Regions from separate parts of the Homo sapiens genome. Here region 1 is linked to region 2. The links come from fine-mapping of genetic effects on gene expression. A gene starts in region 2. The other region holds a variant in brackets. All regions are shown on one strand. Distances are from middle to middle. Region 1 holds the start of ACOT6 (acyl-CoA thioesterase 6). Region 2 holds the start of ACOT4 (acyl-CoA thioesterase 4).

What was found. PIP is the estimated chance that this variant, and not a neighbour inherited with it, causes the effect.
Region 1: its variant is fine-mapped to the expression of ACOT4 in whole blood (TOPMed, PIP above 0.99).

The regions. Positions count from the first base shown.
Region 1 is chr14:73,610,616-73,615,001 of GRCh38, forward strand. ACOT6 (acyl-CoA thioesterase 6) reads left to right here and starts at 1,902. Exons shown (of 3, transcript NM_001365788.1): 1 at 1,902-2,417. The coding sequence starts at 1,957. It also overlaps a transcript of HEATR4 not described here. RefSeq lists enhancers at 2,013-2,062, 2,080-2,579, 2,113-2,162 and a silencer at 3,238-3,482. The variant G/A (reference allele first, on the strand shown) is at 2,074.
Region 2 is chr14:73,590,145-73,594,530 of GRCh38, forward strand. It overlaps ACOT4 (acyl-CoA thioesterase 4), which reads left to right and starts at 1,729. Exons shown (of 3, transcript NM_152331.4): 1 at 1,729-2,272; 2 at 3,558-3,760. The coding sequence starts at 1,816. It also overlaps a transcript of HEATR4 not described here. RefSeq lists an enhancer at 1,963-2,462 and a silencer at 2,274-2,343.

The sequences.
Region 1 (4,386 bases), 20 kb after region 2:
CAAACCTCTGCCTCCAGATCCTGGGGGTCTGGAGGGCATATGAAATGTACTAGGTTTACTAAAGGAGGTATCTGGGTTGGGGATGGACTGCAGGGCAGTTCTCTGGTTGGCCTTGGACTGACTCAGTTCTCCCCTCTTTCTCACTAGTAGTTCTCAAGCATAGAACGTGCTGGGAATGTAACATCCTGAGAGAGGGACGGACTGGCTGGAATAGCCCTGGCTCTATTCCAGCCCCTCCCTACAAACAGGATGTCTTTCAATGCTTTAACCCAGCAGTCACATGACCCCAGAGTACAAAACTCAGGGCAGCTGCAGTGCAAGTGGGGCACACACACATGAGATTCCATCACCCAGGCAGCATTCCTGAGCCTTGGGGGACTGGTTTCCAATGATTCTTAGGCTTCTGTCATTCTTTGCTGCCTATCTGTAAGTAATAAATCCAGTTCATGTAAATTGTTGTATTAAATATATGAATGTGTTTTCTCACTGGACTCAGACAAGTTGGTAACCAGCATACAGTGAACTTGCTTCATAGAGTCTAATACCTTTTTGTTCAGTTTATACATGTTTACTGAGCTGGGCATCACTATATGCTCTTCTTCCTTCTCCACCCTGCTATGTTCCCAGCTAGGTTGAGCTGTGTGGTTGGGTTTGGCCAAAGAGAGGCATTAGCAAGATACTGAAAAACAAGAGGAGAGTCAAGGGACTTATAGTCTCCTCCTTCCTGCCACAAACCATAGGTTCCTTCTAAAAAAGGTACAACTCCTATCAGACTGCCCCCTTCCCTTGAACCTTCAGATTCAGGGTTCTACACCGAATCTTGTTTCATTGTTTTTGTTTTTAAATCTTGCCCATGCCTTTGTAGATAGTACCTTTATAAAACTCTCCTCAATTACACAGGCTGAGAGTGCCACTTGCTTACTGCCAGAACTCTGTATGCATACAACCCAAAATGGACTCTGCCAGTGATTAGATTTGTGAGGTAAGAAACAAAACAAAACTTTCACTGGGTACTAACCTACAGGTGTGTCAGTGTAGTGTTTTTACACATTAGCCCATTTAATGGTCACAATAAGCCTTTTCAGATAAGAAAACTGAATTTAGAGGGTTATGTTTCTTGCTAAAGATCACCAGGTATTAATATTAAGGATCAGGGTCAGACCAGAACTCGGCTAGGTCTGCCTCCCTAAACATCTGCTTTGCTCCAGGTACCATTAGCCCTGGAAAAAAGGCTTGGTAAGGGACTGAGGGGTAAAGGACGGATTACGACCATGTTTCTCCAAGGGGTCACCTGAGTACAATCACCTGGGATGCTTTTTCAAAATCTAGATTCTTGGACTGTATCTCTCTCAATCCTTTAGCTCTCAGTGGTTTTTGTGCCTCTATTTCGACACTCACCACATTGGATTGCAGGAATAGTCATTAACTCTTTTTTTTTTTTTTTAGACGGAGTTTTGCCCTTGTTGCCTAGGCTGGAGTACAATGGTGCAATCTTGGCTCAATGCAACCTCTGCCTCCTGGGTTCAAGCAATTCTTCTGCCTCAGCCTCCCAAGTAGCCGGGATTACAGGCATGCGCCACCACACCTGGCTATTTTGTATTTTCAGTAGAGATGAGGTTTCACTCTGTTGGTCAGGCTGGTCTTGAACTCCTAACCTCAGGTGTGATCCACCCACCTCGGCCTCCCAAAGTTCTAGGATCACAGGCGTGATCCACCGCCCCCGGCCGGATTGGTCATTAACTCTTATTTCAGCAGATACTCTTTCATTTGGGACACTGGTGTATTTGCACAAATTCTAGGCGCCCCACGCAGCGGCCTGGAGCCTGTCCCCAAGTCCAACCAATGGGAGTAGTGTTAAGGGCTCCGCCCTCGACTACTTTCCAGCGCTCGGCAAAGCCGCCAGGCCCGCCCACTGACTCCGCGGAGCTGGGTCGCCCCTGTTCTACCCAGATTGGGATGGCAGCGACGCTGATCCTGGAGCCCGCGGGCCGCTGCTGCTGGGACGAGCCGCTGCGCATCGCAGTGCGCGGCCTGGCCCCGGAGCAGCCAGTCACGCTGCGCACGTCCCTGCGC[G/A]ACGAAGAGGGCGCGCTCTTCCGGGCCCACGCGCGCTACCGTGCCGACGCCCGCGACGAGCTGGACCTGGAGCGCGCGCCCGCGCTGGGAGGCAGCTTCGCGGGGCTCCAGCCCATGGGGCTGCTGTGGGCGTTGGAGCCCGAGAAAGCCTTGGTGCGGCTGGTGAAGCGCGACGTGCGGACGCCCTTCGCCGTGGAGCTGGAAGTGCTGGACGGCCACGACACCGAGCCCGGGCGGCTGCTGTGCCTGGCGCAGAACAAGCGCGACTTTCTCCGGCCGGGGGTGCGGCGCGAGCCGGTGCGCGCGGGCCCGGTGCGCGCCGCGCTCTTCCTGCCGCCGGATGAGTAGTCTGCCCAGAATTTGGTCGAGCTCTGCGACCCCCACCGGCCCCTTTCCTGTCCTGGGAATCGCGTGATTGTGGAACATCCCTGAACTTGTTCCTTCGCTCCAGAGTCTGTCATGGATTCTGAGTCTGGGCGTCCGCTGTTGCCCAGGCTGGAGTGCCGTGGCTGGATCGTAGCTCACACTGCAGCCTCGAACTCCTGGGCTCAAGTCCTCTCGCCTCAGCCTCCTGAGTAGCTACTCCAGTCTTTCCTTTTTAAGTTTCACGTCCCTCCCTGGAGGCACCACCACTTTAGCTATGTGCTGAATAGTGCATTCAACTTATTATATATTTATTGAGAGCCACTATGTGCCAGCCATGTGGTTTTGTTTGAATACGATATGGGCAAAACCTTAAGCTGATGTGCAAGAAGGATTTTTGCCTCCTTTCACATCAAACTTCCAAAGAAGCTAAAATCCACAGTATTGGCAATGCCCTTTAATTGTTTAAAAACACACACAAAACTGCCTGACAGTCCTCTCCCTTCTATCATAAACATGCTGTACGTGGTTCTCAACCTGCAATGATTAGCCGCCCTCCCTGGGGGAAATTTGGCAATATCTGGAGACATTTGTGGTTGTCATATCTGAAGGGAGAGGTGCTATTGGCATCTAGCAGGCAGAGGCCAGAGATGCTGCTAAACATTCCACAATGCACAGGACAACCACCAGAACAAAGAATTATCTTGCTGAAAATGTCTGTACTACTGAGGTTGAGGAACCCTAGTCTAAGTAAACACAGGATGTTTGCTAGGTAAAGGTAGCCCAGAAAGAAGACTCCTGATTAATCCCTTCTAACTAAATTCCTGACTTAAACCTCTACCATATAAAAATGATGAGCCGGGCACAGTGGCTCAGGCCTGTAATCCCAGCACTTTGGGAGGCTGAGGTGGGCAGATCACTTGAGCCCAGGAGTTCAAGACCAGCCTGGGCAACATGGTGAAACTCTGTCTCTACAAAAAAAAAAAAAAAAAAAAAAAAATTAGGCAGGCATGGTGGTGCATGCCTGTAGTCCCAGCTGCTTGGGAGGCTGAGGTGGGAGGATTGTTTGATATCAGGAAGTAGAGGTTGCAGTGAGCTGAGATCACGCCACTGCATTCCAGCCTGGACAACAGAGTGAAACCCTGCCTCAAACAACAACAACAACAACAAATTCTAGAGTTGCAACAGCACATAGAATCCTTAAACCGAATTCTGTGATTATTCTCCAAAACAAGAAAACTTGCTTTATTTTTACAGCTCTTCAGCAATTCTTAGCCTTAACTCGTGGCTGCCCACTGTACTGTGAATTCCTGGGGCTGGAATTGGGTCTTACAGATTTCTAAATATCCATGTTCCTAGAGGCTTTCGCAAGGATATAGTAGGAGCTCAATAAATCATACTGACTGGGCCAGGCGCAGTGGCTCACACCTGTAATCCTAGCACTTTGGGAGGCTGAGGTGGGTGGATCACTTGAGGCCAGGAGTTCAAGACTAGCCTGGCCAACATGGCAAAACCCTACCTCTACTAATTATATAATACAAAAAAATTAGCCAGGCATAGTGGCTCACACATGTAGTCCCAGCTACTAGGGAGGCTGAGGTGGGAGAATCGCTTGAACCCGGGAGGCTGAGGTTGCAGTGAGCCAAGATTGCGCCACTACACTTCAGCCTGGGCGACAGAGCGAGACCCTGTCTCAAAAAAAAAAAAAAAAAAATCACACTGACTAAGAATCAACTAAAACCTTTCATTAAAAACAAACAAGGAGCCGGGCGCAGTGGCTCACGCCTGTAATCCCAGCACTTTGGGAGGCCGAGGCAGGTGGATCACCTGAGGTCAGGAGTTCGAGACCAGCCTGACCAACATGGTGAAACCCCGTCTCTACTAAAAATACAAAAGTTAGCCGGGCATGGTGGTGGGTGCCTGTAATCTCAGGAGGCTGAGGCAGGAGAA
Region 2 (4,386 bases):
TCTGGCCCCACCCACATCCTGCTGATTGGCCCATTTTACAGAGAGCCGATTGGTCCGTTTTGACAGGGTGCTGATTGGTTCGTTTACAATCCCTGAGCTAGACACAAAAGTTCTCCACCTCCCCACTAGATTAGCTAGATACAGAGTGCCGATTGGTGTATTCACAAACCCTGAGCTAGACACAGGGTGCTGATTGGTGTGTTTACAATCCCTTAGCTAGACATAAAGATTCTCCAAGTCCCCACCAGACTCAGGAGTCCAGCTGGCTTCACCCAGTGGATGCCGCACGGGGTTCGCAGGTGGAGCTGCCTGCCAGTCCCGCGCCGTGCGCCCGCACTTCTCAGCCCTTGGGCGGTCGATGGGACTGGGCGTTAGTGGAGCAGGGAGCGGAGCTCGTTGAGGAGGCTCGGACCGCGCAGAAGCTCACGGCGGGGGCGGGGGCTCAGGCATGGCGGGCTGCAGGTCCCGAGCCCTGCGCCGCGGGGAGGCAGCTAAGGCCCGCTGAGAAATCGAGCACAGCAGCTGCTGCCCCAGGTGCTAAGCCCCTCACTGCCCGGGGCTTGCGGGCCGGCCGGCCGCTCCAAGTGCGGGGCCGCCGAGCCCACGCCCACCCGGGACTCGCGCTGGCCCGCAAGCCCCGCGGGCAGCCCCGGTTCCCGCCCGCGCCTCTCCCTCCACACCTCCCAGTAAGCTGAGGGAGCCGACTCCGGCCTTGGCCAGCCCAGAAAGGGGCTCCCACAGTGCAGCGGCGGGCTGAAGGGCTCCTCAAGCGCGGCCAGAGTGGGCGCCAAGGCCGAGGAGGCGCCGACAGCGAGCGAGGGCAGCCAGCATGCTGTCACGTATCACTAGCACTTTGGGACTACAGAGGCAGGAGGATAGTTTGTGCTCAGGAGTTCGAGACCAGCCTGGGAAACAGGGTGACACCTCCTCTCTAAAAATAAACATTTAAAAATTAACGTGGCATGGTGGTGCGCTGTCTGTAGTCACAGCTACTCCGAAGGCTGAGACAGGAGGATCACTTGAGCCTGGGAGGTGGAGGCTGCAGTGACCTGTGATCGAGCCACCGCCTTGCAGCCTGGATGACAGAGAGAGACCCTGTCTCAAATACAACAAAAAAGCAGGCCGGGCGCAGCGGCTCACGCCTGTAATCCCTAGCACTTTGGGAGGCCAAGGCGGGAAGATCACTTGAAGTCAGGAGTTCAAGACCAGCCTGGCCAACATGGTGTAACTCCCTCTTTACTAAAAATACAAAAATTAGCGGCATGGTGGCGCGCGCCTGTAATCCCAGGTACTCGGGAGGCTGAGGCAGGAGAATCGCTTGAACCCAGGAGGCGGAGATTGCAGTGAGCCGAAGCGCCACTGCACTCCAGCCTGGGCGACAGAGGAGACTCTGTTTCAAAAAAAAAAAAAGTTAAAAACAAAACCTTCCATGGAGCCCATGAAAGGCTGGAATTTGGCTTGATCTCATTGGCTTTTGGTTTCACCACAAATTGATCATCCAACAACTTTCATTCCAACAACCGAGGGTGGTGTGAGGCAGAGAGGCTTTCTACGGGGTGGGTTGGGCGCCACACCTTGCGCGCCCCGGGGCCCAAGGAGACGACCCTGAAGAGGAGCCTGGCTACTTTTGCCTCAGACGAGTCCGGAGCGCCGGGTTAACCGGTCTGAAGTCCCAGGGGCTTTCTGGGACTGCTCAGCCACCGGCAGCTTCCGGCACCAGGGGACGCCGGACGCCGTCCGGACATTCGGCGCGCTTGCCACGATCTTGGACGGGTCTCGGGCCTCGACCTTTGAATTCCCCGCTCCGGCTCCAAGATGTCAGCAACGCTGATCCTGGAGCCCCCAGGCCGCTGCTGCTGGAACGAGCCGGTGCGCATTGCCGTGCGCGGCCTGGCCCCGGAGCAGCGGGTTACGCTGCGCGCGTCCCTGCGCGACGAGAAGGGCGCGCTCTTCCGGGCCCACGCGCGCTACTGCGCCGACGCCCGCGGCGAGCTGGACCTGGAGCGCGCACCCGCGCTGGGCGGCAGCTTCGCGGGACTCGAGCCCATGGGGCTGCTCTGGGCCCTGGAACCCGAGAAGCCTTTTTGGCGCTTCCTGAAGCGGGACGTACAGATTCCTTTTGTCGTGGAGTTGGAGGTGCTGGACGGCCACGACCCCGAGCCTGGACGGCTGCTGTGCCAGGCGCAGCACGAGCGCCACTTCCTCCCGCCAGGGGTGCGGCGCCAGTCGGTGCGAGCGGGCCGGGTGCGCGCCACGCTCTTCCTGCCGCCAGGTGAGCCAGGCTGCTGGCGGGTGGTGTGAGCGTCAGTGGCCTGAGTCTCCGTTTGTTTCCAGTGCTGATTTAGCACTGGTTTGGTTTTGGAGCAAGATCAGAGAAGCTAACATTGACTATGTCAGTGGCCACTCTACCAAAATAGAGGGTTTGGTACCGGGCGTGGTGACTAACGCCTGTAATCCCAGCACTTTGGGAGGCCGAGATGGGCGGATCACTTGAGATCAGGAGTTTGAGACCAGACTGGCCAGCATGGTGAAACGCTGACTCTACCGAAAATACAAAAATTAGTCCAGCCTGGTGGCACACGCCTGTAGTCCCAGCCACTCGGGAGGCTGAGGCACGAGAATCGCTTGAACCTGGGAGATGGAGGTTGCAGTGAGCCGAGATCGCACCACTGCACTCCAGCCTGGGTGACAGAGCGAGACTCCGTCTCAAAAAAAGAAAAAAGAAAAAAAAGGATTTTTTGTTAGGCTGTGTACTACGGTTTTTACTTGCATTCTATCAGTTAGTCTCTATAATATCCCAATGAAGTTGGTATTGTTATTCTGCAGATGAAAAAACAGGTTCAGGTCGTCAGGTACATTATCCACTTTGCTATTAATCACTACCCTACAGATTTCTACAGGCATCAGCCTGACTTGTCTAAGGCAGAATGATGACAGTGAATGAAGCTATTACCATGTCGTCTTCTCTAGTGTTCTAGGCACACTGTCTCTTCTCCACTTCTTCATGTGCTGCTTTATCACAGGTCACACTTCAGACTCCACTGCCTTTCTCACCTAAAACCATCTCTGGGTATTTCTTTTTCTTTCCTCCCTTTCTACATAGACATCTGAAATATCAGTACACTAAAAACCAGAGGGCTGATGCAACAGAACATAAAGTTTTGTTTCAATCTTTTTTCTTTTCTTTCTTTCTTTTTTTTTTTTTTTTTTTTGAGACAGTGTCTGTCTCTGTTGCCCACGCTGGAGTGCAGTGGTGTGGTCACACCTCACTGCAGCCTTGACCTCTGGGGCTCAAGTGATCCTCCCTCCATTGCCTCCCAAGTAGCTAGGACTACAGGCATACACCACCACACTGACTAATTAAAAAAAAAAAAAGATTGTAGAGATGGGGTCTCACTACATTGTCCAGGCTGGTCTTGAACTCCTGGCCTCAAGCAATCCTCCTGCCTTGGCCTCCTAAAGTGCTGAGATTACAAGCATGAACCACAGTGTCCAGCCAGGAAAGCAAATTCTTTAAATTGTATAATGGCTTACATTTATAATATTTTGTTCTCTAGGACCTGGACCCTTCCCAGGGATCATTGACATCTTTGGTATTGGAGGGGGCCTCTTGGAATATCGAGCCAGCCTCCTTGCTGGCCATGGCTTTGCCACGTTGGCTCTAGCTTATTATAACTTTGAAGATCTCCCCAATAACATGGACAACATATCCCTGGAGTACTTCGAAGAAGCCGTATGCTACATGCTTCAACATCCCCAGGTTCTCCTCATGTCCTTTATTTAATCAGTCTCTCTAGAAATATTTCCATAGAGAGTGTAACCTTTACCACGTGCAGAAATGCTGCTCTGTTCCTCTTTCACAAAGATGTCTTCTGGAGACTTCCTTGGCTTAAGGTGCTATTTCCACTTTTTCTGTCAGATGAATTTGTGATATAGAATTAATTGTAAAATCCACATGAGATTTTATTTAGTAATATTAAATATTATCTGTATATTGCAAATTGAATTTCTAATCTACTGTCTTTGCATGCTTGTTTTTAAATTTTAATTTCCTGGTGTCAGAGTATGTTCTCAGATTTTGGTCAGAACTTGTCCACCCCTTTCAGAAGCCAAGAACAAACTTACTTACTCTGAAGTCTTGCTTTGTAATCATTTGCCAATACATATGGCAAATGATCTGATGAATGATTCACATCTTGAAACAACCTGGTTCCACACTATTGGATGCATTGCCACATGAAGACTTCAGTCAGACCTACCTGAATGTGGCCCTGAACTTGATGGGATCTGTGGCTCAGCGGCTCAGCGGCTCAGCATTCTCTAGTGGATAATTCTCTGAAATGCTTATAACCAGTTTCCAAGTTTTTCAGTGATTTTAAGATGTGT